Homo sapiens: one gene and its partners. The protein of the gene in region 1 purifies or fractionates together with the protein of each later gene. This does not show direct contact. Each region holds a gene or a part of one and is shown in the gene's direction. Other genes may lie near its edges.

The links.
Region 2: the proteins of SLC6A15 (region 1) and KLHL36 purify together in Homo sapiens (co-immunoprecipitation; 4 studies listed by BioGRID and IntAct, with this or other methods). This does not show direct contact.
Region 3: the proteins of SLC6A15 (region 1) and GPAT3 purify together in Homo sapiens (co-immunoprecipitation; 4 studies listed by BioGRID and IntAct, with this or other methods). This does not show direct contact.
Region 4: the proteins of SLC6A15 (region 1) and GOLGA5 purify together in Homo sapiens (co-immunoprecipitation; 4 studies listed by BioGRID and IntAct, with this or other methods). This does not show direct contact.

What each region holds. Positions count from the first base shown.
Region 1 is NC_000012.12:84,902,525-84,909,976, reverse strand, and holds part of SLC6A15 (sodium-dependent neutral amino acid transporter B(0)AT2), read left to right. Parts: intron 1-7,452.
Region 2 is NC_000016.10:84,658,059-84,665,510, forward strand, and holds part of KLHL36 (kelch-like protein 36), read left to right. Parts: intron 1-1,701; coding exon 1,702-1,859; intron 1,860-3,519; coding exon 3,520-4,075; 3' UTR 4,076-7,452.
Region 3 is NC_000004.12:83,531,360-83,539,285, forward strand, and holds the start of GPAT3 (glycerol-3-phosphate acyltransferase 3), read left to right. Parts: upstream 1-4,748; 5' UTR 4,749-5,144; coding exon of another isoform or gene 5,145-5,263; coding exon 5,264-5,404; intron 5,405-6,339; exon of another isoform or gene 6,340-7,493; intron 7,494-7,926. UniProt on the Homo sapiens protein: Converts glycerol-3-phosphate to 1-acyl-sn-glycerol-3-phosphate (lysophosphatidic acid or LPA) by incorporating an acyl moiety at the sn-1 position of the glycerol backbone.
Region 4 is NC_000014.9:92,789,992-92,797,304, forward strand, and holds the start of GOLGA5 (golgin subfamily A member 5), read left to right. Parts: upstream 1-4,313; 5' UTR 4,314-4,465; exon of another isoform or gene 4,466-5,002; intron 5,003-7,313. UniProt on the Homo sapiens protein: Involved in maintaining Golgi structure. Stimulates the formation of Golgi stacks and ribbons. Involved in intra-Golgi retrograde transport.

The sequences.
Region 1 (7,452 bases):
ACTAAACTCTAAAGTCCGTATTCATAGTTACTACCTTACCCAGTGATCATAGTTGAAATTGTAAATATGCTTCTCTTGTCATAAAATATAATTTGTATATGAATAGGTAAGATATTTGCATTCTTTTTAACTCTGGGATTATATCATCTAGGAAATTGAATCATTGACTTAGAATAGCAGACCCAAAAGAGAGCTTGGTGGCTATCAAAAGCTCCTAAAAACTTTTCTTTCACTTCTCAATGGACCTCTCACCTTGTGGAAGAGTATGTTAATTCTTTATTACTACATACATATGCATGATAGGATATATTAGTATATTCTTATGCAGCTGTGCAGAGTAGATTTTGAAATGGTTTCTCAGCAGATAGTATTAATAAAAATCTACAGGCATAGTTGGATGCATGAACAACATTCAAGGTTACATAGCAGGAATCATTAGATTTATTTCTACTTTGCTTATCATACCACTCTTCTGGCTGTCTTTACTAAACAATTTTTGATGTATTTATCTGCTTAAATATTAACTTTGACCAGTAATGATCATCTCTTTTTCTGTGAACAACAAGCCCTAAAAATAAACTGGGATATAGGGCAATTTCAAATGCAGAGTATCACTTGACACAGGGCAGAGCTGTAAGTTGTGTTCAGCCTTGAAGGTCACTTTATTTCCTTGTGATTAATGTGCTAAGGTATCTTTTCACATAAGATGAATTGACTTTTATTTTTAAATAGAATGCATACTTTGGGAACTTTTTCACCTATCAGATTGGCAAAGATCAAAGAGATTATTTGTTATACAGAAGACAGTAGAAGAAAGCGGGCACTCTCATGCATTGCTGGTGGTAGTGCAAATGGACACAATTTTTATCAAGGGCTATTTGGTAATATTTATCAAAATTATAAAAGCTCATACCTTTTGATCAAGCTGTTCCAGTTCTAGGAATTTATTCTACAGATATGGAGATGCAAGATATACAAAATAATTTGTTGGAACATTGTAGTAGCAAATTATCAGTGATGATCTAAATATATGGTATACCATACCAAGGAATATCATACAGTAGTTTTTTAAATGAAGCTATTACATTGAGATCAAGAGTTTTGAAGAATTTATTAGAGTGAAAAACTAAGAGGTAGAATTATGCACATAGTAATAGTTGTGTAAAAAGAAGCAGATTGGGGGCTGGTGGGGAGAAAACACATATTAGCTTGAATATATATAGAGTGTTTAAGTGTGTATACACACATATATATATGCTTGAATATACAGAAAATATTTATTGAAGATTTTGGTTACTTATTGGGAGGTACAGATGGTACAGTATATTCTAGGGAGAAAGGGTAGGAAGATATATATATATATATATATATATATGTTTCTTTACTCTTTGCCCTTTAATATCTTATTACAGTATTTTGTATTCAAAATATAAATATATAAAATATTTTAAAGTAAAGACAGAGGCAAATAAACACCTTTGGTAGAGTTTTATTCATTCATCACATGCCATGGAATTAGTAAGGTACAAAAGTCAATGAGTATTTTGACGACCCCCTGATTTTTGTTGTTGTTTCTGAATTTACAAGAAAGCTTCCTCTTTCAAGAGTTTTAGAAATAAAATTATATTGGAGAAGCATATTTAGTACTTGATTCAATAAAGTTATTTAATTATACTAGCAAAAAAGGCATAATTTTAGGGTATTAAAAAAAGTCTTAATTTTGAGATGGGTGTTGAGTCCCATGTAGTTGGTAAGAAATAACACAGAGAGTTCTTGTGAGCTCTTGACAAATTTCCTGCAAATATAACATTTTGTAATAACTATATTAAACCTTCCTAATCAGAATATTGACATTGATACAGTTAAGTTACAAAAGAGTTCCATTACATAAGGATTAACTGTGTTGGCCTTTTATAACCACAACCACTTCACTCCAGTCCCCAGGCTCTCCTTAACTCCTGGCAATCTCTACTCTGTTCTCCATATTTATTTTTTGGTCATTGCAAGAATATTATATAAATGTAATCATACAGTATTCAATGTATTTGAATTGATGTTTTTTCACTCAGCATAATTTTCTGTAGATTCATCTAAGTCATGTATATTGGTAGTTTTTGCTAAATAGTAGTTAATGGTATGGATGTGCCAGAATTTATAACTATTTACCCATTGAATGACATCTGGATTATTTCTAGTTTAGGGTTAATGTAAATAAAACTGCTATGGACATTCCTGCATAGGCTTTTCTGGAACATAAATTTTCATTTATCTGGGATAAATGAGAACACTTGCTCGGTTATGTGGTAGCAGTGTGTTTAGTTTTTAAATGAACAGTCGAACTTTTCCAGAGTGTTTGTACAATTTTACATTCTCACCAGTAATGAATAAATGATCCATTTTCTCTGCATCCTTGCCAGAATTTGGTTGTCACTATATTTTGGCCATTCTGATAGGAATATAGCAACATCTCATAGTATTTTATATTTGCATTTACCTAATGGCTAATAATATCGAGCCTCAGTTCTTGTGCTTCTTTGTCATTCATATATAATATTCATTGAAATATCTCTACCTGTTTTCTTATTTTATTTATAATGGTCGAGTTTTTTTTTGTTTTTTGTTTTTTTTCGAGACGGAGTCTCCCTCTGTGGCCCAGGCTGGAGTTCAGTGGCGCGATCTCAGCTCACTGCAAGCTCTGCCTCCCTGGTTCACACCATTCTCCTGCCTCAGCCTCCCAAGTAGCTTGGACTACAGGTACCCGCCACCACGCCCGGCTAATTTTTGTATTTTTAGTATAGACAGGGTTTCACCGTGTTAGCCAGGATGGTCTCAATCTCCTGACCTCATGATCCACCCGTCTGGGCCTCCCAAAGTGCTGGGATTACAGGCGTGAGCCACCGCGCCTGGCAACGGTCGAGTTTTAAGAGTTCTTTATATATCCTAAACACCAGTCATTTGTGACCTTCAAATATATTCTCCCATTTTTAAGCTTTTTTTTTTCCATCCTCTTAATAGATTCTTTCTCATAGCAAAAGTTTCAAATTTTGGGGCCTAGTTTATCAATTTTTGTGTTTCTGAATCCTGCTTTTGTCATGTCTAAGAGCTCTTTGGTTAACCCTAGATCTCAAAGATTTAATCTGATGACTTGTTTCTTAAAGTTTTATATTTTCCACTTAAGTTTGTAATTCATTTTGAATTAATTTTTGTATAAGATATGAGATTTAGGTTCAGGGTTATACTTTTGCCTAGGGATGTCCAATTATTTCCCGAACAATTTGTTGAAAGAGCTATTTTTTTCTCCATTGAAATTGCTTTGGTACTTTTATCAAAAATTAGTTAGGCATATTGTGTGCACTTCTTTCTGGGTAGCCTCTTCTGTTACATTCATTTTTGTCTATCCTTTCACCAACCTCACATAGACTTCATTACTGTAGCTATATAATAAGTCACAAAATTCGATAGAATCATTCCTCCCACTTCATTCTTCTGTTTAAAATTGTTGTAGCTCCTCTAATTTTTTGCCTGTTCATATAAATTTTGAAATAATCTTCTTTGTAGAAAAATGTCACTGATATTTTGATAGGAATTCATTTAACCATATATCAATTTAGGGAAATTTGACATCTTTCTTATGTTGAGTTTTCTAATCCATGAACATGGCATGTCTTCCCATACATTTAGATCTTCTTTCATTTACTTTATCAGCACTTTGTAGTTTTCAGCAAAAATGTACCATCCAGGTTTTGTTACATTTTCGTGTAATTATGTCAGTTTAATGATTGTAAATGCTATTGCATTTTTAATTTCTGTGTTCACTTGTTTATTGGTAACATATGGAACTGTAAATGATTTGTGTATGTTTACCGTGTATTCTGTGACTTTTTTGGACTATTACTCTAGAAGGTATTTTTGTAGATTCATTAGAATTTATAATATAGACAATCAAAATATCTGCAAAAAAATTGAATACTGTATTATTACATTCATATAACATTCTTGAAATGACCAAAAAATAAGTATGGAGAACAGATTAGAGGTTGCCAGGAGTTAAGGAGAGCCTGGGGACTGGAGCACAGTGGTTGTAGTTAAAAAAGGCCAACACAGGGAATCCTTATGTGATGGAAATCTTTTGTAACTTGGCTGTTCTTCTTTCTTGATTTATGTGACTTATACATAAATTTGTAACTTGACTTTTCTTGTTTCTTGATTTATGTGACTTATACAGTTAGGCTTCTGTGTCCTTAGGTTGTGCATCCACAGATTCAACCAAATGCAGATGTGAATATAGTACTTGTGGGATGCAGGACCCACAGATGAATGTGGGACTTGAGCATCTGAGAATTTTGGTATTTGTGGGAGGTCCTTCAACAATGTCCCTTGGACACTAAGGGCTGACTGTATTTTCTTTTTCTTGCCTTATGCCACTACTTAGAACTTCCAATACTATGTTGAATAAGAGTGTGAGAGTGGACGTTTTTATCTTGCTTCTTATCCTGAAGGAAAAGCATTTAGTCTTTCACCAGTAAATATAATATCAACTGTAAATTTTTTGTAGATGCTGTTGATCAAGTTGAGAAAGTTTCCTTCTGTTCCTAATTTTTGACATTTTTGATCATAAATGGACATTGAATTTTGTCTTTCCTGCATCAGTAGATATAGTCATGTGATTTTTCCTTTAGCCTGTCATTATTGTATATCACATATTGATTTTTGAATATTGAACCAACCTTGAATACTTAGAATAAACCCTACTTGATCATGGAATATAATTCTTTTTATACATCACTGAATTCTGTTTTCTAACACTGTGTAAAGGAATTTTGTGTCTATATTCATTAGGAATATTGATCTGTAGTTTTTTATTTTTTACTATGATCTTTGCCTGGTTTTGGTACCTGAGTAATACTGCTTTCATAAAATGAAATACAAATTATTCTATCATCTTCTATTGCCTGAAGAGATTGTGTAGAATTGATGTTAATTCTTCTTTAAATGTTTGGTGGAATTTTCCAGTGAGATTTCTTTTGTGACAGTTTTAAAATTATGCATTCAACTTATTTATTAGTTATATAGCTATTAAATGTTCTATTTCTTATTGGCTAAGTTGTGGTAGTTTGTGTTTTTTAAGGAACTGATTGGTTACACCTCAGTTACTAAATTTATGTGTGTAGAGTTTTTGTTAGTATTCTCTCATGGTCATTTTGATGTCTGCAGATTTTGCAATGATAATTCCTGTTTCACTTACGATATCCAAGATGCCTTAAGCATGAAATTGACTTTATGCAGCTTTACATATGATTGACTAAATGTGGCTTTGAAAGTTAATACCTATTTCTATTCTAATACCTATGAAATCACTGTGTGTATTTAAAAACCTAAACCACATATCCTCTACATAGATCTAGCCACATTGTGAACAGGTTATTGGACAATATTTTAAATTTCAGTACAGTTTGTATAATTTTAGTTAAATCCAATACATAAGTAATCTTATCCATAGACAAATGTTTCAGATATCTATTGCTACACAACAAACCATTCTACAACATAGTGTCTTAAAATAATGACTTTTTAAAATCATTCTTCTGTGGGGTGGTTGGGCTCATTTGGGTGGTTCATTTGCTCTAATTGGTGTGTTACCTGGCTGTTCAGCTAGGGCTGGAATATCAATACCTTTGTTCTTATGCCTGGAGCTTCACTTCAGATGATGGTTGCTTGAGACTATTTCTCTCTCTCTCTCTCTCTCTCTCTCCCCCTCCGCCCCTCCCCCCTTTCTCTCCCTTTCTCTCCCTCTTTCCATGTGGGGTTTCTAGCAGGAGAAGCAGACGTTTTACATGGTGCCTAGCTTCCAAAAGAGGGAAAGCAGAAACTGCCAAGCTTCTATAGCCTTGGAACTTGCATAGTTTCACTGCTGCTACCTTCTGGTCAAAGCAAACCAAAGTTAACCCAGATTTAAAAGAAGGGAAAACAGCCTACTACAACAAATAACTATAAAAGATCAAACAACATTGTATAAGGATGTATGAACAAATAAAACATATTCAGTGCCTTTAAATTAATATTTTTAGAAAACATAGTATAAATTAGTTTAAATAATAGTATATGCCTCCTAAAGATGTGTCCAGTTCCTACTTCCTGACATCTATAAATGTTACCTAATTTGGAAGAAAAGTCTTTGCAGATATAGTATTGAGATGAAGATATGATTTCGGAAGATCCAGATGGGCCCTACATGCCATGACAAGCATCCTTATAGGAAAGATGGAGAGGGATGTTAGACTGAAGTAGAAGGAAGTAGGCAATCTGACTACAGAAACAGAGAATGGAGTAATGAGGCCACAAATTGAGGAATGCCAGCAGCCACCAGAAACTGGAGAAGGCAAGGTTCATGTTCTCCCCTAGAGCCTCCCGAGAAAATACCACCCTGGTAACGCCTTGATTTTGGTTGACTGTAACTTAATTTGGATTCTTTGGTCTCCGGAAGTATGAAAGAATACATTTCTGTTGTTTTAAGACATTAAATTTGAAGTAATTTTTTTTATTCTCAATGTTTTTTAGGGCATATTAGTATATTTTATTTTATTTTTTGTTATACTTTAAGTTTTAGGGTACATGTGCACAATGTGCAGGTTTGTTACATATGTATACATGTGCCATGTTGGTGTGCTGCACCCATTAACTCGTCACTTACATGAGGTATACCTTACGTTAATAAAACTTTGTCTTAAAAACTTTTTGTCTACTTCAGAAATCTCTAAAAGAATTTTGAAAGATTGTCTATCTTTGATTCACAGAAGTCAACAAAAATATACTCCAATTTATGGAAATTGCTTTATGATTATAATTAATTTTGAAATAATTACGATTTCACAGAAGGGTGCACATGGAGGTGTATGCACCATTTACTCGACTTCCCCACCACTAACATCTTATGTCAGATACGGTACTATATAAAAACCAGCATATTGATGCTGGTATAATCCATAGTATGTCCACGTTTATAGCTCTGTGAAATTTTATAAAATGTATACCTTCTTCTATCCCTTACCACAATGAAGATAGTAACCTGTGTGCCTTACCATATGATTCTCTCCTGCTACTCTTTTATAAGCACACCCATTTACCCTCTCCATCCCTAACTCTTCAAACCATGAATATGTTGTTTATTTCTATAATTATGTTATTTCACAAATGTTATATAAAAATTGTTATATATGTATTTCTTTGAAATTGGCATTTTTATATTGTTTTCACTGAGTATCATTTCCTTTAGGTACATGCAAGTTGTTGCATGTATCAATAGTTCTTTTTTACTGCTGAGTAGTGGTTCATGGTGCGAATGTAGCACAGTTTAACCATTCACCCATTGAAACGCATACTGGATAGTTTCCATTTTTTTTCTATTATAAGTAAAGCTGCTATGGACATTTGTGTACAAGTTTTGTAAGTTTT
Region 2 (7,452 bases), on another chromosome or scaffold:
AGGTGTGATGATAAAGTGACGAGCAGAATACCCCGGGGCCTACATCCTGGACAGGGAGAGGGAGAGCCGACCCACCCCTTCGAGGGGTCCGTCATCGTTCAGAGCAGCACTGCCTGGCGGGGCTTTCTGTGCAGATGGAAGGGTCTGTCTGTACTTCCCGATACGGTAGCCACAGCCGCATGTGGCGACTGAGCACTTGAAATGTGGCCAGTGCGACTGAAGAAGTCAATTTTCAATTTTATTTCACTTTAACCGATTGACGTGTAAGTGTATGTGGCCGCACGAGGCGTGGCTACCCTATTGGACAGTAGCATGGGTCTAGATGTTTGATCCATGGTTCAACATCCCCAGGTCCTGGAGTCTCTGTGGGGCTCCTCTGGAAGCATTTTGGGAGATAGTTTAAGGAGACCACTAGTGCTCACGCCTGGCCCTTGGGCATGTATTGTGTCCTGATTCTGGGAAGAGCGTGGGCCTTGATGTCAGACCTGAGGTCTCATCCCAGCCTGGCTAAGTCATAGCTAGGAAATTTCAGATTCTTGTCCTCTCCACATTTTGGATTCCCCTTCTGGGAATACGTGGGGGACAGGGAGTGCAGTAGCTCATGTTGACTGGCAAGCCCCTGGCGTAGGGAAGGTGTCTCCTTTCTGCTGGGAGCGCTCTCCAGCCACTCGGTCCCCGGGACAGTCCATCTCAGCCTCTATACTCACACCTCAGCGTCGCGCCCAGCTCAGTGCTGTTCTCAGCTCAAAACCCAGTCAGAATGGACTCCAGCTGACCTTTTGATTTTACTCTCAGAAATCTGAGACTGCCCTCCAAGGTCGAAGTGTCACCACTGGAAAGGGTCCCTGGCTTTGGAGCCTCCTCCCGAAGCCTGGCAGCAGTGGCAGCAGTGTGTTTGCCTTGGATTCGTTTAAAAAAAGAAAAAAAAAAGTTGGCTCTTCTACTTTTTGTGTGTGTGTGTGTGAGACAGAGTTGTTCTGTCACCCAAGCTGGAGTGCAGTGGCACGATCTCGGCTAATTGCAACCTCTGCCTCCCAGGTTCAAACAATTCTGGCGCCTCAACCTACTGAGTAGCTGGAATTACAGGCGCCTGCCACCACGCCCGGCTAATTTTTGTATTTTCAGTAGAGACGGGGTTTCACCATGTTGGCCAGGCTGGTCTCGAACTCCGTGACCTCAGGTAATCCACCCACCTTGGCTTCCCAAAGTGCCAGGATTACAGGCGTGAGCCACCGCGCCCAGCCTCTTCTGTTTAATTTCCTGTCGAATGCCACGTCCTGCTCTGTTAACACGGAGTGGCAGAGCAGCACTAACTTTACAAATCTGATGTGGGGAGAGGAAAGATGAATTTTTATTTCATAAAGCCACTAGATCAGCAATTCTGACCCCTGTGACCACAGAGTTCCCATCCACGCGGCTAACGACATGACCAGAGAAGTTCGGGGGTTCAGAGCATCTCCATCCCCCTTTTGGGGACTCAGAGCGTCTCCATCCCACTTTTGGGGATTCAGAGCATCTTGGTGAAACCTCGGGGGCTCAGAGCTCCCACCTGAAGAAGCCCTCTTTATTCAGGTGCAGTTCCCTTTCCCAAACATTCTCCGGGGTTGTGCATTCCGCAGACACATTTGGGAACCGCAGCGCCAGATGTTGATGCTGTCCCGGGTTCGGGGAAGGGAAGGTACAGGTATCTCAACTCCACAGGTGGCCTCCATGAACCAGCGCCGTGTGGATTTCTACCTTGCCTCCATCGAAGACATGCTGGTGGCCATCGGCGGCCGGAATGAGAACGGAGCGCTCTCTTCAGTAGAGACGTACAGTCCCAAGACTGACTCCTGGTCCTATGTGGCCGGCTTGCCAAGGTGATCTGGGGCTTGGTGGAAGGTTCTCCAAATGGGATGTTTTTAAGGGACATAGTTCAGTCCACGTGCCTCACTTTCTGGGCATGTTGGCCTCCAATTCCAGGAATGAAATCTTCCGGCTTGTCAGGAAGAGTGGGTACACCATGAGGGGCGGAGGGCGTGACGGTGCACAGTCCGGGCTCCGGTTTCAGACTTAGGGCAAGGGTCAGCTCTGCCGCCATGACGGACATCCCTCCATGGCTGAGTGTGTGCAGTTGCTGAGCTTCAGAGGGTGAGGCCTGACCTGAGGATCTCCCTGAGCTTGGGCAGGAGGAGTTCAAAGAGATGGGGGTATATGTGCTAGATCTAAGCCTCAGGCATGGGTCTTCACCCCGCTCGGCCTTTAGTTCCTCATCTGTAGAGGTAGACGATAATGATACCCACCCCACAGCACTGTTGTGCAGAGCAGATGCAGTGCTGCTTGTGAAACCTGCATCCACATGCAGGGAGTGCCCCAGGGTGGCCGCCTCACCCTCCTCAGTCTCCCCTGCGTTCCGATGTGCATGTATCGAGCATTTATTATCTCCATGGGATTAGCAGAAGGTGCACACCATTTTTTCCACCAGTTCCCTGTTGCCGCACCCAGCAGTGCACTTTCTGAACCAGTCTTTGCTGTGGAATACATCCAGGTGTCCGTAAGAGTTAGAAGTGTGTGGGGTAAGCGCTCGTATTTTTGTTTTTCTGAGAGAGAGTCTCTCTCTGTCACCCAGGCTGGAGTGCAGTGGCGCGATCTCGGCTCACTGCAATCTCTGCCTCCTGAACTCAAGCAGTTCTCCTGCCTCAGCCTTCTGAGTAGCTGGGACTGCAGGCGCCTGCCACCACACCCAGCTAAGTTTTGTATTTTTGGTAGAGACAGGATTTCATCATGTTAGCCAGGCTGGTCTTGAACTCCTAGCCTCAAGAGATCCACCCACCTCACCCTCACAAAGTGCTGGGATTACAGGCATGAGCCACTGCACCTGGCCATATTGATCCTTTCTTATTCACTAAAGGCCCTGGTTTACATCAGGGTTCCCACTTCCTGGCACAGTTGTGTGGGTTTTGAGGAACACAAAGCAACATGAATCCACCATTACAGCATCACGCAGAATCATTTCACTGCCCTAAAGCCCACTGTGTGCGTGCTGTCCATCCCTCCCTCCCCTCTCCCCACAGTCCTGGCAGCCACTGATTTTGCTGTCTCTATGGTTTTAGGCAAAACTTTTCCCGAGTGCCAGCACAGTTAGAATTGGACTGTATGTCGTATTTCCTCTTTGATGTGTGATTCATCGGGTGCATGTGTGCCTGCTAGCTCATTGTTCTAGTCGTTTCCAGCCATTGTGAAAAGGGTGATGGTCCTGTGATTATTCCCATTTCCCAGATGGGGCAAGGGAGACTCAGAGAGAGTGAAGCTGGGTTCTGGCCCAGGCGGCCTGACTGCAAAGCTGTCCACTTCCCCGCCCTGCCCTGCCATTTCTTTGCTAATGACGGCTACTGTCTATAGAGTGTTCATGGGGTGCCCACTCCCTATATTCTTAAATCCTCATGGCCCTCTAAGACGGCAGGCTGTTCCCCGGCTCGGAGGGGGTAAGCCTGGCACAGCCCTGAGCTCTCCCTCTGTCTCTGCCCGTCGACCCTGCAGGTTCACGTACGGCCACGCGGGCACCATCTACAAAGACTTCGTGTACATCTCGGGGGGCCACGACTACCAAATTGGCCCCTACCGCAAGAACCTGCTATGCTACGACCACCGGACAGACGTGTGGGAGGAGCGGCGGCCCATGACCACGGCGCGCGGCTGGCACAGCATGTGCAGCCTGGGTGACAGCATCTACTCCATCGGGGGCAGCGATGACAACATCGAGTCCATGGAGCGCTTCGACGTGCTGGGCGTGGAGGCCTACAGCCCGCAGTGCAACCAGTGGACCCGCGTGGCGCCGCTGCTGCACGCCAACAGCGAGTCGGGCGTGGCAGTGTGGGAGGGCCGCATCTACATCCTGGGCGGCTACAGCTGGGAGAACACTGCCTTCTCCAAGACCGTGCAGGTGTACGACCGCGAGGCCGACAAGTGGAGCAGGGGCGTCGACCTGCCCAAGGCCATCGCTGGCGGGTCCGCCTGTGTCTGCGCCCTGGAGCCACGGCCAGAGGACAAGAAGAAGAAAGGCAAAGGCAAGAGGCACCAGGACCGGGGCCAGTGACCCTAGCTGCGCCTCTTGGGACCATCCTCACCGTCACCTCCCAGGGCTCTGTAGACCAGCAGCAACTTCTTAGTATTCCGGAAACATTATGTACAACTTAGCAGCTTTTTTTACTTTTATGATTCTTGGTATTTCTATGATATCACAGTAACCAATTAAATACTATCTGTAACTTTACATATCTTGCTTGAATAACTAACCCTGGGCCCAGGCAGTGAGCAACCCCTTGTATCTTCACAGGTCTTTGCCCCGTGTTATGATTCCTCATGGGTCCTTGCTGACTGTCCCCCTGAGAGTAGCTGGCACGTGGGTAACACAGAAATTTCTGTAGTGAAGCTTGGGCCTCAAAGGGTTCTCTTAGGCCACCTAGTCCAAGCCTCCCCAAACCTGGCTGAACTTTTAAGAATACAGATGCGTGAGCCCCGCTCAGAATTATGGAATCCAAAACCACCAGGAACGGGGAGGAGGTGGTGCCCAGAAGCTGTATTTTAACTAGTTCTTGGAATTCTGGGTATTAGTCACATCTGGGAATCACTGGCAAGGTCCAGTGTGTTTGTTTTATAAATGAGTGCACAGAGACCACCCATGAGGGTGAGTGAGTGAGTGACCAGGGGCCACGCAGCTCGCTAGACTGTCAGATGAGACATGATGACTTCCCGCTGGGGAGCTGTTCTCCGTATCAGGTGAACGCTGTTTCTGAATAATTCCGTCTTTCCTCATTGGAAACCTTCTTGAATTCTAAAACGTTACAGGTAACCAAAAACGAAAAAAGGTATGAAGCTCTTTATACATATTTTTTTGTAATTTGTGCATTTTTTTCCTTTTTTTTTTTTCTGAACCCACTGTCTTTTATATTACTGATGTACTGAGCTCCCAAATCTGTTTATTTCTCAGGAAAGAAAAAGTGAGTGCTATGGAATTTGCCATCGTTCTCTGTGACTCTATCTTGAGGCGCTGTTGAAAGTTCCTGCACAGAGGAGCACATGTGGATCCCTGAGAAGGCAGTGGAGGGCTCCCTAACTCCCACGCCAGGTCCTGCCCCAGTTTTCTGCTTCTAAGTAGTTTCGTGCTGCTGGGCAAATTCTCGAACAAGTCCGTGTGTTCCCTCATCCACCCCGCTTAGCCACAGGATTAGATGGAATACCCTCCAGGCTCCTCCCGGGTGATAGGGCCATTCAGCCTCTGAGCTGTTCGTACCCGGATGGCATCCCCTTCAGGATGTGGAGCTGGCCTGCACTGACTCCTGCAAACAGTTCCTAAAGCAGGTGTCAGGGTCGCTTGCCCTTTAAGAGGGCTCTTAGCTGCCCGAGTGGATGAGAAACGTGCAGAACTATGGGAGGATAGGAGTGTGATGGGTTTTAAGCATGAGCCAAGGAAGGCATGAATGAGCTGTACCTCACCCAGCATCCGATGGCAGAGATCAGTAAACTTCAAGATGTGCTTCATCTTCAATCCTAGTCTAACACCAGTCTTCCTGCAGACAGTTCCGAGAGCAGGTCTCGATGTCACTTGCCCTTTAAGAGGGCTCTCAGCTGCTCGAGTGGATGAGGATCAATGTGTTAAGATTGATATTAGACTAGGAAAAAAATCTTAGTTAACTTTAATTTCCATTTCTTCTGCTTCTTTGCTGCCCCTCCTTTCCCTTCCCTTCAGGGTTTACTGTGGTTCTCACTGGTCTGTTTATGTAGCCATCCAGAAGAGATGAGAGCATTTTGGGGACTGAAAGCTTCAATAGCCAACTTACTGCCCTCTGTGGTTAGTGAGGAGGGCAGTCTGCATGTTCAGCTAGCTAGTTATTTGCATGTGAAGTCCCTGGAGGCTTACAAACTGTTGAGAGGTTCTGCGAGGCATACAAACAAACAGACCAAAAGGCTGGAAACTCTGCTTGGAGCTCTGCAGCATTCCGGTGTATGAAAGGTTCCGAGAAGTCTCAACCCAGCATTTCCAAACTTCTTTGAGCCTAAAAGTCGTTTGTCTCATACCTAGTCCCAGACCCCCACAAAACATGTTTTGCAGAACTTCTGCCAACTTTGGGATAGCTTACCCCCTTCCTATTCGGGAAAGGTTTTATTGCTTGTAGACCCCTCAGAAGGCAGGGTAGGGTGTACGTGGGCTGTTCTCCCCATCTCAGCCTGGGTCATGAACAAACGGGCAGTTGTTTGGCCTGAATCTCGGGGCAAGTTGGGGAGAGCACATAGAAAGACTCTGTGAGTGATTTGGGGAGTGGGATAGCTTTGACCTTGGAGAGAGGAGAGCCATTGGTTTTCAGCCTAAGCCAGCTCTTTTATGTTTTGCTTCTGGGACTTGTCCCTGGAAATGTGTGAGCTTCTGGCCTCTATTCTGATTTTCTTGTGCCTCATGAGTTACATACGACGTCCTGCGCTTCATATTTTGTGGTGTCTCTCCTGATACTATGAAGGTGGTTTGTAATTGACATGGCTTTGACCCTAATATTACTAAGGTTGGGACCACCCTTTTAAAGGGAGGATAAACAAGTTTCATCTTGTGGGTCAACTTCTAATATTTGATGGTGGCTACACTGTGACAAGAAAGGTTTTTGAGCTTGTTGGGGTCAGTGGATGGGCACAAGGGCACCCAGTGGTGGTGCCCGGGCCAGGTTTTTGTTACTTGTCTTTTTAAGTTGAAAATTCACCCTACTGTGCATGAAAATGGAACTGAAAATGGAAGAGACCATGCCTGGGCAACATGGCAAAACCCCATCTCTACAAAAAAATTACAAAAGATTAGCCAGGGATGGTGGGGCATGCAGTAGTCCCAGCTGCTTAGGAGGCTGAGGTGGGAGAATCACCTGAGCCTGGGAGGTTGAGGCTGCAGTGAGCTATGACCACACCACTGCACTCTAACCTGGGTGACGGAGTGAGACCCTGTCTCAAAAGAATAAAATGTTTTTTAACTCAGATGGGCAGAGTTTGGGCTGTGCTTATGCAGTGGCCATTTGAACCGCACAGTCACGAATGTGGGGTTTTAAACTAGAGTGATGAAGGCACAGGTGCTTGCAGGCTGCCATTTTGAGAGGGAAACAGCCACACATGTCATCATGTTAAACTTTCAGTGTTTCAAGCTATTCTGCTTGAATTTTGAAGACACCTGGATCTTTTTTTTTTTTTAACATTTCAAAATAAGCATGGCAGGCTTCTATTGAGGTTTGGACTTCTCTCATTTCTAAAGAATTAGAGTTGTAACTTCATATTAGTTGTAAGTTTGGGGTTTGGTCCTCACCCAAGTTGGAAAGCTGTTTGCTTAAGACATAGATGTATTATAATAATAGAAGGGAGGGAGTAGAAAGCTGATGAACCCTTGTTACTTATAGCAAACTTCCTGCTGTTTTAAATGCACAGAGATTATTTTATCAACTG
Region 3 (7,926 bases), on another chromosome or scaffold:
TGGTGAAACCCCGTCTCTATCAAAAGTACAAAAATTAGCTGGGCGTGGTGGCGCCTGCCTGTAATCCCAGCTACCTGGGAGGCTGAGGCAGGAGAATCATTGGAACCTGGGAGGCGGAGGTTGCAGTGAGCTGAGATCATGCCACTGCACTCCACCCTGGGCAACAGAGCAAGACACCGTCTCTAAAAAAAAAAAAAAAAAAAAAAAAAAAGAGTATGTGCCTGTAACAATAGCTGAGTGTTGGCCAATCCCAGGAGTCATACTTTAACCACTCATAGACTGCTGAGTGTTCAAACTGTGTTCAAATAAGGCAAACACCAACCTGTAACCAATCTAGCTGTTCTGTTCCTGTACATCACTTTACTTTTTTTGTCTATAAATTGTTTCTGACCATGAGGCACCCCTGGAGTCTCTGTGAATCTGCTGTGATTCTGGGAGCTGCCCGATTCGTGAATTGTTCATTGCTCAATTAAACTCCTTTAAATTTAATTTGGCTGAAGTTTTTCTTTTACAGAAGTTGCTGCTGGCTTTAAACAAGGGTGTGTCAAGAAGTGAAATTCTGTGCAGGTGGAAAAGGGGTAGAATAACAGGCAGAAAGGTATGATGAATGCTGTAGCTTCTGATATCAAGCAATGAGTTCACAGTGGGAAAATTCATCTAATACACAAACCAAGGCAGGATATAATGAAAGCTCAAGAAATGTGTGAAATAAAACCAGAGAAAAGAAAGATTTTATAAAGATACTGGAGATAAGCAATGCAACTTGTCTGTTGAATAAAGTACTTCAAAAGTCTGCTTCACCCCCAGACTTCTGAGTTCTACCATACCTTTTAAATTGAACGAATAGTCTTTGTTTGGCTTCAGCTATGACGTATTATTTGCCATAGGCTTCTATTCATGACAATATTGACAACTGCTCAAAGTTTTTTAGCCTAAATTCTGTTCACATTGGCCACAATTGCTGTAAAAGCAGAGGCTTGAAGAAGACTTGAATAACACAATGAGTTAACAGGTAAGGGCAGCTGTTTGGAATCAATTATTTTTGCTTTGATATCCATACACTTAGCTGGACCTCAATGGGTTTTTTTTTTGCTTTTTATACAGGGTCTTCTTCTGTTGCCCAGGCTGGAGTGCAGTAGGGTACATGTCGTCAGGACCTCCTGAGGCTGTCATGAAAAAAAAAAAAAATATATATATATATATATATGTATACACACACACACATACACGTAGCCTATAATCCTAGCACTTTGGGAGGCCGAGGCAGGTGATCTCCCCGCTATGGATATGACCTTATTTGGAAAAAGGGTCTTTGCAGATTAAGGCAAGAAAAAGATGGAGAGTTTTTGCCCTTGCACCAGGCTGCCTGCTGATCTCTGCATAGAGCTTTGCATATATACAGTATGTATATATATACAGTATACTATATGTATATACACACTTATATATACACTATATATGTGTATATATACATACATACTATACATACAGTATATATACAATGTATGTATATATACTGTATGTATATACTGTATATATAGTATACGTGTGTACATATAATATATATAATATGTGTGTATTATATATGTATATATGTATATGTGTATATATACACACACTCCTGTATATATATATACATACACACCTGTACATACATATATATGTAGAGATCAGCTGTTTGTGTGTATATATATATACACACATATATATACATATGTGTATATATATGCATATATATACACATATATACACATATGTATGTATATATATGTGTACATATACACACAGGTGTGTAAGTGTATATATATACAGGTGTGTATATATATTCATAGTTACGGGTGTTAGGACTTGGACATATCTTTTGGGGAGGCATGTATATATATACATGCCTGGATTAATAGGTAAAAAAACAGGATTATGGATAAATTCATTACTAAGCATTGACTATCAACTACCATTTAATACATACTCTCCAATCCCAATAACAACCTCTGCAGGTAGGTGTTATTATCCTCATTTTACAGAGATGGTAATTATAACGGGTTGAATTGCACCTTCCCCAAAAGGTATGTCCAAGTCCTAACACCCCTAACTATGGATATGACCTTATTTGGAAAAAGGGTCTTTGCAGATTAAGTTTAATTCAGGGAAGAATCTCAAGATTAGATCATCCTGGATGAGGGTGGGCCCTAAATCCAGAATAATGTGTCTTTGTAAAAGAAAAGATGGGAAGAAGAGACAGGAAGGTCATGTGAAGACTGAGGCAGAGATGTGTGTGCTGCCACAAACCAAAGAATGCTGGGATCCACCAGAAGCTGGAAGATTCTCCTCTACAGTTTTTGGAGGGAGTGTGACCTTACAGACAGACACCTTGATTTCACACTTCTGGTCTCCAGAACTGAGAGAATCAATTTCTGTTGTGTTAAGTCCTTAAATTTGTGGTGATTTGTGAAGGCATCCCTAGGAAACAAATACAGTAAGTAAAGGGGGTCTTGACTTCAGGGACGGAGAAAGTAGGTTCCTACCTAGGTTTAAGTCTCAAGGAATGGAGGAGGGAGGAGAGGTGAGGAGAGTGAAAGAGAGACAAGGAGAGCGGCAAGTCGGGACCAACTTTCCCCGACTTGAGACAGGGTCAGGATCACCCTACATTTCTTCTCTTCCCTCACCCTCCTCCATCACTGCAAAGATGAGCCTTTGTTACCCTGGGGAGCCTGTGTTGGCTCTCCTGCCTTTTAGGCAAGAAAAAGATGAAGAGTTTTTGCCCTTGCACCAGGCTGCCTGCTGATCTCTGCATAGAGCTTTGTCATTTACCATGCAGTTTCATGCTCACAATCACTTTCAACCCTGAGAAGAACCCATCTTCCTGATGAGAAAGGTGAAGCACAGAAGCACTTGCTCAAACTTATATGTGTTCGTGCTGCTCTCAATCGAAGACTCCAAATTCCATTTTATTACCATTGCACCATACAGCTGTGGACGAATAATTCTTCCGTAACAGTTAAAACAAAACCAAACCAAAACCATTTTGTGGAGTTTGTTCATGAGCACCAAAAATCACTGGAGAGTGTGTGCACTCAGCACACGCAAAGTTGTGTGTATTATCTCCCTTGTGGGGTAAACTTTGGTACAAGGATTTAGCCTTCCTTAGTTATCTTGGTTTGAGGAAATAAAAGGAAAATAAGAGTTTTGCCTGAACATATGGTGTTAAATATGCCAATATAATATTTGAAGTTTTGCACTCAATATATATAGTGTTTGAAAGCAAGGACTTTGGGCAGCTTTCGGTAGTTGCGTTTTCCGTGTTTTTCTAAACTAGCCAACCTTACAGAGGTTTAATTTTGAGAAACCAAGCTCCTAACACTTCTTCATTCATAACCCTTTTTTTTTTTTTTTAGACTGAGTCTCACTCTGTCTCCCAGGCTGCAGTGCAGTGGCACGATCTCGGCTCACTGCAACCTCCTCCTCCCGGGTTCAAGTGATTCTCCTGCCTCAGCCTCCTGAGTAGCTGGGACTACAGGCGTGCGACACCACGCGGGGCTAATTTTTTTGTATTTTTAGTAGAGACGGGGGTTTCGCCATGTTGGCCAGGCTGGTGTTGAACTCCTAACCTCAGATGATCTGCCCGCCTCGCCTCCCAGAGTGCTGGGATTACAGGCGTGAGCCACCGCGCCCGGTCCATAACCTGGTTTTAATCATCAAGTTATAATTTTTTCCGTTCTTAGTGTGGGAGGGGGCTTGTGACAGCTACCTGGCAGTAAGTACTTAAGGCAGACATCTACATTCTTTACAGAGGGGCTTGTCACTTCGTTGGCTCCCCACTTCCTCCACACCCTGGGCAGGGACCATTTTCTCTGCAATATTTGCTATCAGCGCTGTTTCAATTCAGTTTGCTGGCCCTCTCAGTTTTTTTCCAGCTTGAAACAACACCTGAAAAGTACCTGTAAGAGATTTTGGTCGAATTCAGCGGCAATCTGGAAAATCCCTTCTCAAAATCCCTTCTGCTCATTCTTAAAAATAGTTCTGGTCTCTAAGAGAACAGCAATGTAGTAAATAACATACAGGGTTTTGCCCTTCGTTGCTCTGATAAGGGCTGGCGCGGTAGAAGCGCGGAGCCTGAACACCCAGGAGACACCTGTCAGCTTGGTGAATGAAGGCTTGCGCCGGCCTGGCATTTCTGCTACGCCTAAGCGCGGATAGTATTGGCTGAATGGTAGGGGAAGGTGTGGTTGGAATCTTCCCCCAGAAAGGGAGTGACAGATACTTAGCCGCAGGGTTTCTGTGCCAGGGAGATGGCGGCTCAGTGGGCTAGGCAACGCGTGGAGAGAGCTTCCTACTCTCGGGATAAGCAAGATTGAGCCCCACAGCTGTAGGCCATGTGGGGAAGGAGGTGTGGAAGCCAGAAGCGGCGTACACGGCTGCGTGGTGCGCTCTGCGTTTTCCTGTCCTTGGAAGCCCTTTCCAAGAGTTCGTTTTACACCCACACAAACAAGACCTCAAGCGTCCCAGATACGTCAGCAGTTCATTCTGCGGGTGAAGAAAATATTGACATTTTTCAGATGAAAACTCTCCTCCTGAAAGGACCTTTGCTGAGTGCTGGGGGAGGCGGGGCGCGGGGAAGAACGGAGACCGCCCAGGAGGCTGCGGCACTCCTGGGCTAAGTACTGCCAGGGAGCTCCCCCGTTGGGTGACGGAGGAGGTGGGGCGAGGGCAGCGCGCAGAAATAGGGCGCTGGGCGCCCGAGCGCAGCCAGCTTCCAGCACAGCCCGCGGCCCGGTGCCAGCTCCGCCGGCGACCGGTGTGCCAAAGTGCGGTGCTCCCGCAGGGAACCTGGCTCGGGGAGGGCCTCCGTGAGTCATCTGCTGAGTTGTCGCAATCGCCACCCAGAGGAAATCAGGCACCGGGCGGGGCGGGTTCCTGGCTGCGCTCGCGCGCTCTGCCCGCGCCGCGGTGTGCCTCCGCTTACCCGCAGCTCCGACCACTGGCTCGCGCTACCCAGGTCTCCGCACGCCGCGGTGGCTTCAGCCCAGACCTGGGCAGCCAGCGGAGAAAGAGTTAACTGGCAGGGGCGAGGAGGAGCCCAGGGAGGAAGGAAGGATATTGCCGTAATTCTGAAAGTTTTTTTCCTTCCTCTCTTCCCTTCGCAGAGGTGAGTGCCGGGCTCGGCGCTCTGCTCCTGGAGCTCCCGCGGGACTGCCTGGGGACAGGGACTGCTGTGGCGCTCGGCCCTCCACTGCGGACCTCTCCTGAGTGGGTGCGCCGAGTCATGGAGGGCGCAGAGCTGGCCGGGAAGATCCTTTCCACCTGGCTGACGCTGGTTCTCGGCTTCATCCTTTTACCTTCGGTCTTCGGAGTGTCTCTGGGCATCTCCGAGATCTACATGAAGATCCTAGTGAAAACTTTAGAGGTGAGTGCCGGGAGGGATGCAGCCAGCCCCACACCGCTGCGGGCTGAGAACCCGGGGGTCCAGTTCTCAAGGTCAGTGGTCGCGAGTCAGGGGTGTGTGTGCGCGCGTGTGCATGCGTGCGTGCATTTCTGTTCCTTGCCCGCAGCAGTGCGAAAGTCAGCATCTCGGCTTCTTTCGCGGAGCTGGAGGGATCTAGGCTGGAACCACTGGACCACTCTGTTGTTTCTCTGGTCGAAGGCGAAAAAATCATTCCACTCCCTGAGCATCGTTATTATTTTACTGATTAGAATAACAACAATGCGACCAACTTTTTGTATCAGAGGATTTGCTTATATCCATTATGCAGTGCAGTTTCCGCTTCACCCGCTTGTTTTTACAGCCCCAGGTTTCAGAGGTCCTTTTGTGTACTAAGGCATCCAGTTCAGAAAGGCATCATGTTCTTCTTTATGCCCAAGATAAGAGACCAATTGCTGGATGGCAGAAAGAAATCTTATTTTATTTTAGTGGAGTCATGGAAATTTTATCTAACCAACAGCACTTGAAATGCCATTGAAAAGGTATATATTCTTTGACCTCAGGTCTCCCTACCCTCCTGTTTCCAAATCCTGCAAAGAAAAATGTTAGATGGAAGTAGGCCTGGTAGAGAACAACTGCAGCTTACTCTTAGGGTTTTATTAAGTGTCAAAAGGCTGGGTAGGGTAGGGAGGGCAAGTGCCAACCCCCTTTTACAGAGAGGGAAACTGAGAGTCAGAGATCAGTGGTTTCTTTGAATTAAGTGTTAGAAGCAGGAGTCTTTTTTTAAAAAAAAATTTAATTATATGTATAATATGTGTGTGTGTGTGTGTGTGTGTGTGTGTGTGTGTATATTTAACATAAGAGACAGGGTCTTGCTATCTTGGCTAGGCTGGTCTTGAACTCCTGGCCTCAAGCAATCTTCCTGCCGTCACCTCCCAAAGTGCTGGGATTAAAGGTGTGAGCCCCACGCCTGGCCAGAAACAGGCATCTCAACTGAGAAGAGGCCCTGCAGCCTAGTGGTTAGGATTAGGGACCCTGGATACAGGTTTGCTTAGATTTGGTACCAAAATTGTAGCTCTGTTTCTCAAAATGTGACCTTAGGGAGGTCATCTACTCTTGTGCCTCATTTTCTGTATCTATAAAATAGGAGTAACAATAACTCCTATTTCCATAGGGTTGTTCAAATGAGTTAAAAGGTATCAAGCACCTTAGAAGGCTGCCTGCACCTACTGTATGAATGCTTGTTGCTATTAAAAGAATAATATGATTACTGAGATTCTGGCATTCCACAGTGCCTTCTAATAAGTTTGGTTCCCATTTTTGTGACCTGTTTTCTCTCTGCCCTTAGGACGTGGCTTTATCTGCTCTTCTTTCTCAGCTAATTGGGTGGCTCCCAGGTATACATCTCTAACCCACTGGACATTGTCTTGTACTTGCTAGCCTCCTGTATTGCCCTAGACTCTTGTTTGTGGCTATTTCTTTGCCTAGACTTTGAAGTTGTATGTGATTCTTCATCCTCAGTGCTCATGTTTTTAAAGTTCTACTGTTTCTACTTGGGAGCTATTTCTCAGTTTTGAACTCTTCTTATTGACTTTACATTCTGAGCTTGGTCACATTATGCTGTGAATTTCTTGACTGCTTCCTAATGTGAGATCTTCAGAATCCTCTCCCATAGCAGATGATCCTCTTCAGCTGGTGTTCCCTCTTTCTCTGAACTCTGAAATGATTGAACTGCTCTCTCATACAGCAATGTCTTTTGGAATTTATACCCTGTGTAAGAATGGTGTAAAGGTAAATCACACCCACTGGCTTCCAGGGGCTCACTTCTGTCTGTTTTTCTTTAGTAACTCAAGGTCAGCTAAGGACGGAGGCCAGCTAGTTGCTGTCAGCCTGGCAAATTATTATACCTGATAGGATGATCTCCAGTCCAGGATCTGACTTTCAGTTTGACAGGCCAGAGATTTTAATTTTTGTCCTTCTGGATAACTCCAGAGCTGAACTCCTTGTCAATCAAACTGACAAGAATGCCAGTTTTCTAATTCTGGTGGGAGAAACCAGATAACTTGGAAACCAGGTAGGTGACACATCAGGAACCCACCCTGTCTGCTGAGACTAAGTTATTAGGTCAAAGAGATGCTTGATATATGTGGAATTTGAATACAGATTCATTGTGTGAGCCAGCTCTGATTTGTTGGTTGCGGCTGCCTGGAACTCCTATGTTTGGGAGCATCTGAGCTCATCAGGAAAGAGAGCTGTGATCCCATAGTGATTTCTGCTTTAGGTGCAGGAGAACAGTAACCCAGGATCCTCTATCCTTCAACTAGAACAGTGTTAGATGTTTCAAAGACATTTCTGTTAGACTGGGGTTAATACGGTGGATTGCTTTTCTCAACTATAGGAATAATTCCTTAAGGGATTATGCTGATGTTTAGCATTAGAACATCTTCAGTGCTGGCCAAATACCCTGCCTTTCTGTAGATTGCATTCAAGGCCTAGCCCTTGTATCA
Region 4 (7,313 bases), on another chromosome or scaffold:
AAGTTTTCTAATTGTCTCTTCAGCCCACTCAAATTTGCATTGAACTCCTCTAGTGAAATTTTTTATTTTTTACTTATTGTACTTTTATTCTAGAATTCCATTGCTTTTTAAAATAATCCCTATCTCTTTACTGATATTCCCTATTTTATGAAGCATTGTTGTAATTTTTTTGTTTTTGTTTTTGGTTTGTTTGAGCCTGGGTCTCACTATGTTCCCTAAGCTGGTCTCAAACTCCTGAGCTCAAGCAATCCTTCTGCCTTGGCCTCCCAAAGTGCTGGGATTACAGGTGTGAGCTGCCACAGCTGGCTGCCATATTTTCACTTAGTTCTTTGGACATATTTTTTTTCTTTTTTTTTTTAAATAGAGTAGATGTGCTGTGTGAGACTTGATCTCATGGTTGAGTAACTTCCTTGAAGTCCTTATATGCTAAGTCCAACATCTCACAACATTTATACTGATTTTCACCTCTGTGTATGGTCAATTTTTCTGTTCATTTGCATGTCTGCTTTTTTTTAATTGAAAACTGGACAATTTAGATAATATAGTGTAGCAACTCCTGTGTTTTGGTGTGCCCCTCAGAGGGTGTTTTTTGTTGTTTTTCTTAGTTTATACATTTGTTGTGTGACTTGCCTGGACTAATTCTGCAGAGTTTCTCTTCCATAGTGTGTTGACATTGATGTTTCTGCTCAGTTTTATTTTTTTCTCTTTTACGTTTATTTCTAAGGTTGGTTTTCTAAGGTTTTCACCAAGGTCAATATAGCTTAGAATTTAGTCAATGATTGATCAGATGTGGTAATTAGACACCTCAAGCCAGTAAGACTTCTACCCTTTCTTGATGGACCTGTGTCATCTAAATGGGTTGAAGAACATTCAAAATTCAGGCAATTTACAAGACTGCTCTGACTTTTGTTTTGCTGGGTTTTCTTGTGTCTCCTCTGCATCTCTGCAAGGCTTCTCTGGCTTTTGTTTTCCTGTGTCTCCTCTGCCTCTGTGCAAGGCTTCATGTTCCGCCAGGGTTGAGTAGATGACTGGGGCTTTTGCCAGACTCTCCTGAACTGACACAGCCTTCCAGACCATAAGCGCATCGCCAAAGCCCACTATGGCTATCTGATTCCCTGGATCTCACTGCTAAACTTCCAGCAGGCTTTCTAATCAGCTGTTTGCTCAACCAGTCTTGCAGCCCAGGTAATTGTGATGTTGGCATTCCCAATCAACCTTTCTCCTTGGCCATGGGGTTTTGCTGGCACCACTCCTTACCAAGTCAGCCCCCTCTGGCAGCAAAGCTGCTGGTTTTCACATTTACGCAGCCCTGACAGAACTATTCCCATGGAACTGGAGGAGAGGGATTGGGAATTTCCCCATGGTAACGTGTCACAGACTCTCACTGTTGTTACCCAAGGTTTAATAGTTTTTCTTGAATAAATGCATTTTAATTTATGTTATACCTGTGGTGGATTTCCAGGAATTTGAAATGGTTGTTTTTTACAATTGTGTCCAATTTCATCATTGTTTTTTGGGGAAGAGAATTTGCTGAATTCCTTACTCTGCCATTCCAGAAGTCACAATATAGCCCCATTTGTTTAAAACTTCATCCTTAAGCTCTATTCAAAGTTCTTTCCCCTGATCTCTGGAGCAGACTAGCTTGGTTGCCCTACAGCTCTAGAGACTTCCTTCTTCCCCTTTCTTTTCTAGGCTTTAGCTCCACTGGTGGCATTAGGGCAGGGAGGAGGTGGGAAGAAAAGAGCAAATTTTCTGACCCATTGGGCAAGGTTGTAGCCTCTCTCTGTTGTGCTGTTTCTCTGGCTAATCCACCCTGGCCCCAATAATGTATGCATGGCAGGCATCTATATGCTGACCTCTTAGGGGGTATATGTGGGAATTCTTGAAATACTCTTTTTTGGGGCCTGCCCATTGCCATTTTTTGGAATATCTGAATTAAGTCTAAAATCCACATTCAATAATTCAAATACTCAGGACCCACTATGTGCACAGGATCAGGCCAATTTGGCCCTAATGACAAGCCTACAACATGGCCCCTAGTCTTCATCTTCAAGTTGAGGAAAGTAAGACTCAAACAGGTTAAGGGCTGGGCACAGTGGCTCATGCCTGTAACCTCAGCACTTTGGGTGGCTGATCAGGCAGATTACTTGAGGTCAGGAGTTTGAGACTAGCCTGGCCAACATGGTGAAACCCCGTCTCTAGTAAAAATACAAAAAATTAGCCAGGCATCATGGCACACGCCTCTAGTCCCAGCTACTCAGGGGGATGAGGCAGGAGAAACACTTGAACCTGGAAGGCAGAGGTTGCAGTGAGCCGAGATCGCGCCACTGCACTCTAGGATGGGCGACAGAGCAAGACTCCATTTCAAAAAACCAACCAAACAAACAAACAAAAAAAACCCAAAAAAATAGGTTAAGTAATTTGTCTAAGATCATCAGTCCTAACAAGGAGTCCACATTACTCCGAAGCCTGTGCCCTTAGACTCAAAGTTTTGTCTCCAGATTAAATATTGGGAGTAATTACAGCTCCTGCTTTTCTTCCTCTCAGGTCAGGTTTCGTCCAATACAGTGGAAGACTGGTTCCTCCTCAACTTATTTCATTCTCATCCCTTCGACAATTAAAACACTGTTTCTAGAGTCACACTGTCCCAAGTTTGAATCCCAGTTGTTCTACTTTTGCTTCTATGTGGCCATGGGCAAGTAACTAAACCTCACTGAATCTCAGTGTCTTCATCTGTAAAATGGTTTAATATATTAATAGTAGTATGATTTTATTAGGTAGGGCTGTGTAAAAAACAATCCTAAATCTCAGTGACTTATAACAGCAAAAGTTTATATGTCACTCATGTGACATCTCAAATGTGAGCTGCTTCACATCCCCTTTTTCTTCCAGGACCAAGGCTGAAAGAGCAGCCCCATCTGACACAGACTATTCTCATGAAAGGAAAAATTTCTCTGGTTGAAATACGTAATAACTGTTAATACTACTGCTCAGAAAGACCCCCTGCCAAAAGAAGATCATACAATCAAGCCTGACATCAGTGAGGCTGGAAAGAATGCTCCTCCTACAGGATGCACTGCAGTCGCATGGCAACGGGCGATGATGTGTAATCCTTAACTGGAAAAGCAACTTAATAGTTAGGAACAACAATACCACCTACCAGAGAATAATAGTACCTTCCTTATGCATGTGAGATTAAAATGAAGTGAGGCACATGCAATGCTTAACACAGTATTCTACACTTAATAAAAGGTTTGATAAATGTTAGATGCCATTATTATGATTACCACCTCCTGGTGCTGCTGAAAATTTTTCTCTTCACCGTACTGGGCTAAACCTCACCTGAGAGCAATAAAAGCAGGAGCTGTAATTACTTCCAATATTTAATTTGGAGACAATAAAGCTTTGAGTCTACGAGGAATAGGCTTTGGAGTAATGTGGACTCCTTATTAGGACAGATGATCTTAGACAAGTTATTTAAACTGTTTGAACCTTACTTTCCTCAATTCAAAGATTTGAGACTTGGAACTGTGTTGTAGGCTTGTCATTAGGGCCAAGTTAGCCCAATCCTGTACACATAGTGGGTGCTGAGTATTTGAATTAGTGAATGTGGATTTTAGACTTATTTCAGATAGTCAATGAACTGTATGCATAACATAACCACAATACTGCCTTTTCCATCCTTTGGGTCTCAGCTCAAATATCATCTTCTCAGAGAGACCTTCCCTGACCACCTGATTTAAAGTACCTCCCGTGCCTCCAGTCACTTTTCCCCGTTTTCTTGTCGTTACAACTCTGGTAACGCCCTGAAATTGTCTTGTCCATTCACTGTTACGTAATATCTGTCTCTGCCACTAGAAAGTAAGCGCCATGCAATCCGGATCATGTTTTCTTATTTCCACCTTCTGCCGTGGACCTCTGGCATTCTCGTCTGTAAAACTTAGGGGAGATGGTGAGGAAAGGGAGAAACACGAGGTCTAGCCGGTCCACCCGGGTCTCAAGCCCCGCCCAACTCAGGCCTCGCGTTCCTTCCAGGCTGGGCACCGCCTTTGGTCACCCACGTGGCCCGCAGTAAGGCCCCGCCCTTTGTGGGTGTGGCCTTTCACGGCGTGCGGGCCGTCCACCGGCGGCGAGCCACGTCACACGCACGCAGGCCATGCGCCGCGCCTGTTCTCGCCGCGGGCGGAAAAGGGGCGTGGCCATGCGCGAGGACCCCGTAGCCGCCAGCGCCACCGCCTGAGTCGCCTGCAGGTGGCTGTTCGCGTCTCCCTGCCGTGCAGGCAGCTCGAAAGCCACTCTGTTGTGGGGTCCTCGCTTCCCTTCCACGTCTCCCGGAAGCGGTAGCAGGGCCCCGGCGGGTCGGGGAGGAGGTTTACTCAGCTTGGGCCCCCTCCGGGCCAGCCGCCGAGGGGGCGCGGCCCAGGACGGCGGCTAGGCCGTAGTGCAGCCTCTCCGGAGTCCTCAGGTGAGGCGGAGGCGAGGGCCCACTGGACGAGACGGGGGTGTTAACGGTCCTAGGAGCGGGGGCGCAGTCCCTTCAGTGGAGACCCTGGTCTCTCCGTTTTCTTTCGGGTCGCGCTCATCTTCGCCCTGTTAGGGGCTGAGGAGGGTAACTGGAGAGACTCCTTGGGCTTCAGCCGACGTCGTTTACTGCCCTCCTCTGTCTTCCTTTCTCCTGACCCCTGCCTGGCCTGGCCGTTCTTCCCGCACGGAACGAGATGGGTGGGGAGCAGAGTGGGGGTCTCTGCTCGCTTACCTGAGATTCCCCAAACTGACAGACCCCAGGGCTCTACGGACTGGGCCTGACCGACTGACCTCCAGCCTCCCTCCCTCTGTGCTGACGCCTGGCCTTCGAAGCAGGCCCTGCCGCAGCCCTTTGCAGACCCATCCCCATCCCACGCACTCTCTGCCCCTGGGCAGTGTCTGGGGAATTGACGGGTGCCTCTGAAGTCCTTCGTGTCTTTGAGATGTTTGCCCAGGGCCCATCTAAGTATTTAATTAGGTAATCGACATTAATTGCAACATTAGTAGCAGTTGCATGGTATGTTTTAAAGCCCAATTAATTTTGAAATGGGAGGCAAGATATAAAGAATTAATGAGCGTGTTTTGATTTTTTATTACTTTTTTTGTAGAGACAGGGTCTTGCCATGTTGCCCAGGCTGGTCTCAAACTCCTGGCCTCAAGTGGTCCTCCCCGCTCGGCCTCCCAGTGTGTTGGGATTACAGGCGTGAGCCACAGTGCCTGGCCTGTATGGTGTTCTGTATGTTACAGAGCATTTCATCTCCATTTTCATTTGATTTTTTATAAACTCCGAAATACATAGGCATTTAATAGTCACATGTGTAAAGAACAGATTTAAAGGATGAGTTTCTTCTTGAGGTTTTTTAGATTTTGAGCTGTATGGTATAGGGAGGCAAGGGTTAAAAGTAGGTTTGGCACTAGGGTAACTTAGACTTGAGTATCTGAGCTGCTGTCTAAACTCTGGGATCTTTCTAAACCCTTTCCACATTTGCTTTAAAAAAAGGATATTGCTGTTTACCACATAACGTGGCTGTGAAAATTACATGTGATAAAAGATACATGTGTACCTGTGTACAGCATCAGTCATATAAAAATTCCACTCAGCAGTATTTGTGAGTGCCTACTGTGTGCTAGACTCTGGGAATTCATTGGTGAGCAAAACAGACATAATCTTTATCCAGCCACTGCCCCACTTTCCCCAAGAACAAGAAGCATGTTAAAAAAATACGTAATTATAAAACATGAAGGACTGTGAAGCAAAAGAATAGGGTATGTACAGATAATGATTGACCTAACTTAGCTGGAAAGGAGAACTCTGAAGCAAATGACATTTGAGTGAAGACCAAGAACAAGAAAGTTAACCATGAAAGAGTTCTTGGCAAAAGGAACAACGTGCACATTCTAGAAATGGTTGTGGACTTTATTATAGAGCCCTTCTGTATCTATATCTTCATCATTACTTTGATGTATTGTGGCACACAATAAGTACTCAAATATATGTATGGAATGAGTGGTTATGCAATTTTGGTTTTTATTCTGGACTTAGCTTAATGTGCACATGGTAGGTATTGAGTATGTGAATTATTGAACATGTACTTTAGATAAATTATGTGCACACCTAAATTATATGTAATAGTGCTGCAGTTTAACATTAAGATAGCTTTTGTATTTAACGGAAACGTTTTTTCAAGTTTTAGCACTTTAAAACAAACTTCAGTGAATTTTATTTTTATTTGGTTGTACTGGAGTTTTGCCATATTGGTTATTTGCTGTTTGGATGTTGTTTTAATTTGCTGCTGTAGCAAAGTACCACAGATTGATTGGCTGGGCCAACAGAAATTTATTTTCTCTCAGTTCTGAAGACTTGAAGTCCAAGATCAAGGTATTGGCAGAGTTGGTTTCTTCTGAGGCGTACTTCTTTTGCTTGCAGATGTCTGCCTTCTCCCTCTGTCCTTTCTGTATGCCTGTTTGTGTTGAAATTTCCTCCTCTTAGAAGGACATGCCAATTATATTTGATTAGGGGCCACCCTGACGACTCATTTTAATTATCCTTTTAGAGATCCTATCTCCAAAAACAGTCACATTCTGAGGTCTGGGGGTTAGGACTTAAATAAAGGAATTTGGAGGGATGCAGTTCAGCCCATAACAGATGCTTTTGCTACATTAAGATTTGCCCGGCCGGGCGCGGTGGCTCACGCCTGTAATCCCCGCACTTTGGGAGGCCGAGGCGGGTGGATCATGAGGTCAGGAGATCGAGACCATCCCGGCTAACAAGGTGAAACCCCGTCTCTACTAGAAATACAAAAAATTAGCCGGGCGCGGTGGCGGGTGCCTGTAGTCCCAGCTACTCGGGAGGCTGAGGCAGGAGAGTGGCGTGAACCCGGGAAGCGGAGCTTGCAGTGAGCCGAGATTGCGCCACTGCAGTCCGCAGTCCGGCCTGGGCGACAGAGCGAGACTCCGTCTCAAAAAAAAAAAAAAAAAAAAAAGATTTGCCCTTCTTTGAAATAGTAATAATAAAAACAGTAATTTATTATTACTTTGAAATAGTAATAATAAATAATAAAAATAGAAATAATAATAAAAACAGTAGTGGTAGTTGTAATAATGGTAATAGCAGCCACTAAAATGAGTGCTTATTATGTGCCAAGCATTTTGCAAAGTGTTTTTTATATATTATTTCATCATAAAACCATCCTATAAGGTAAGTACACTTTCCCCCCCATTTTCTAGATAAGATTTCTCAGCCTCATTTAAGTAGTTTTCTCAAGGTTACCTAGCTAGTAAAAGGTAGG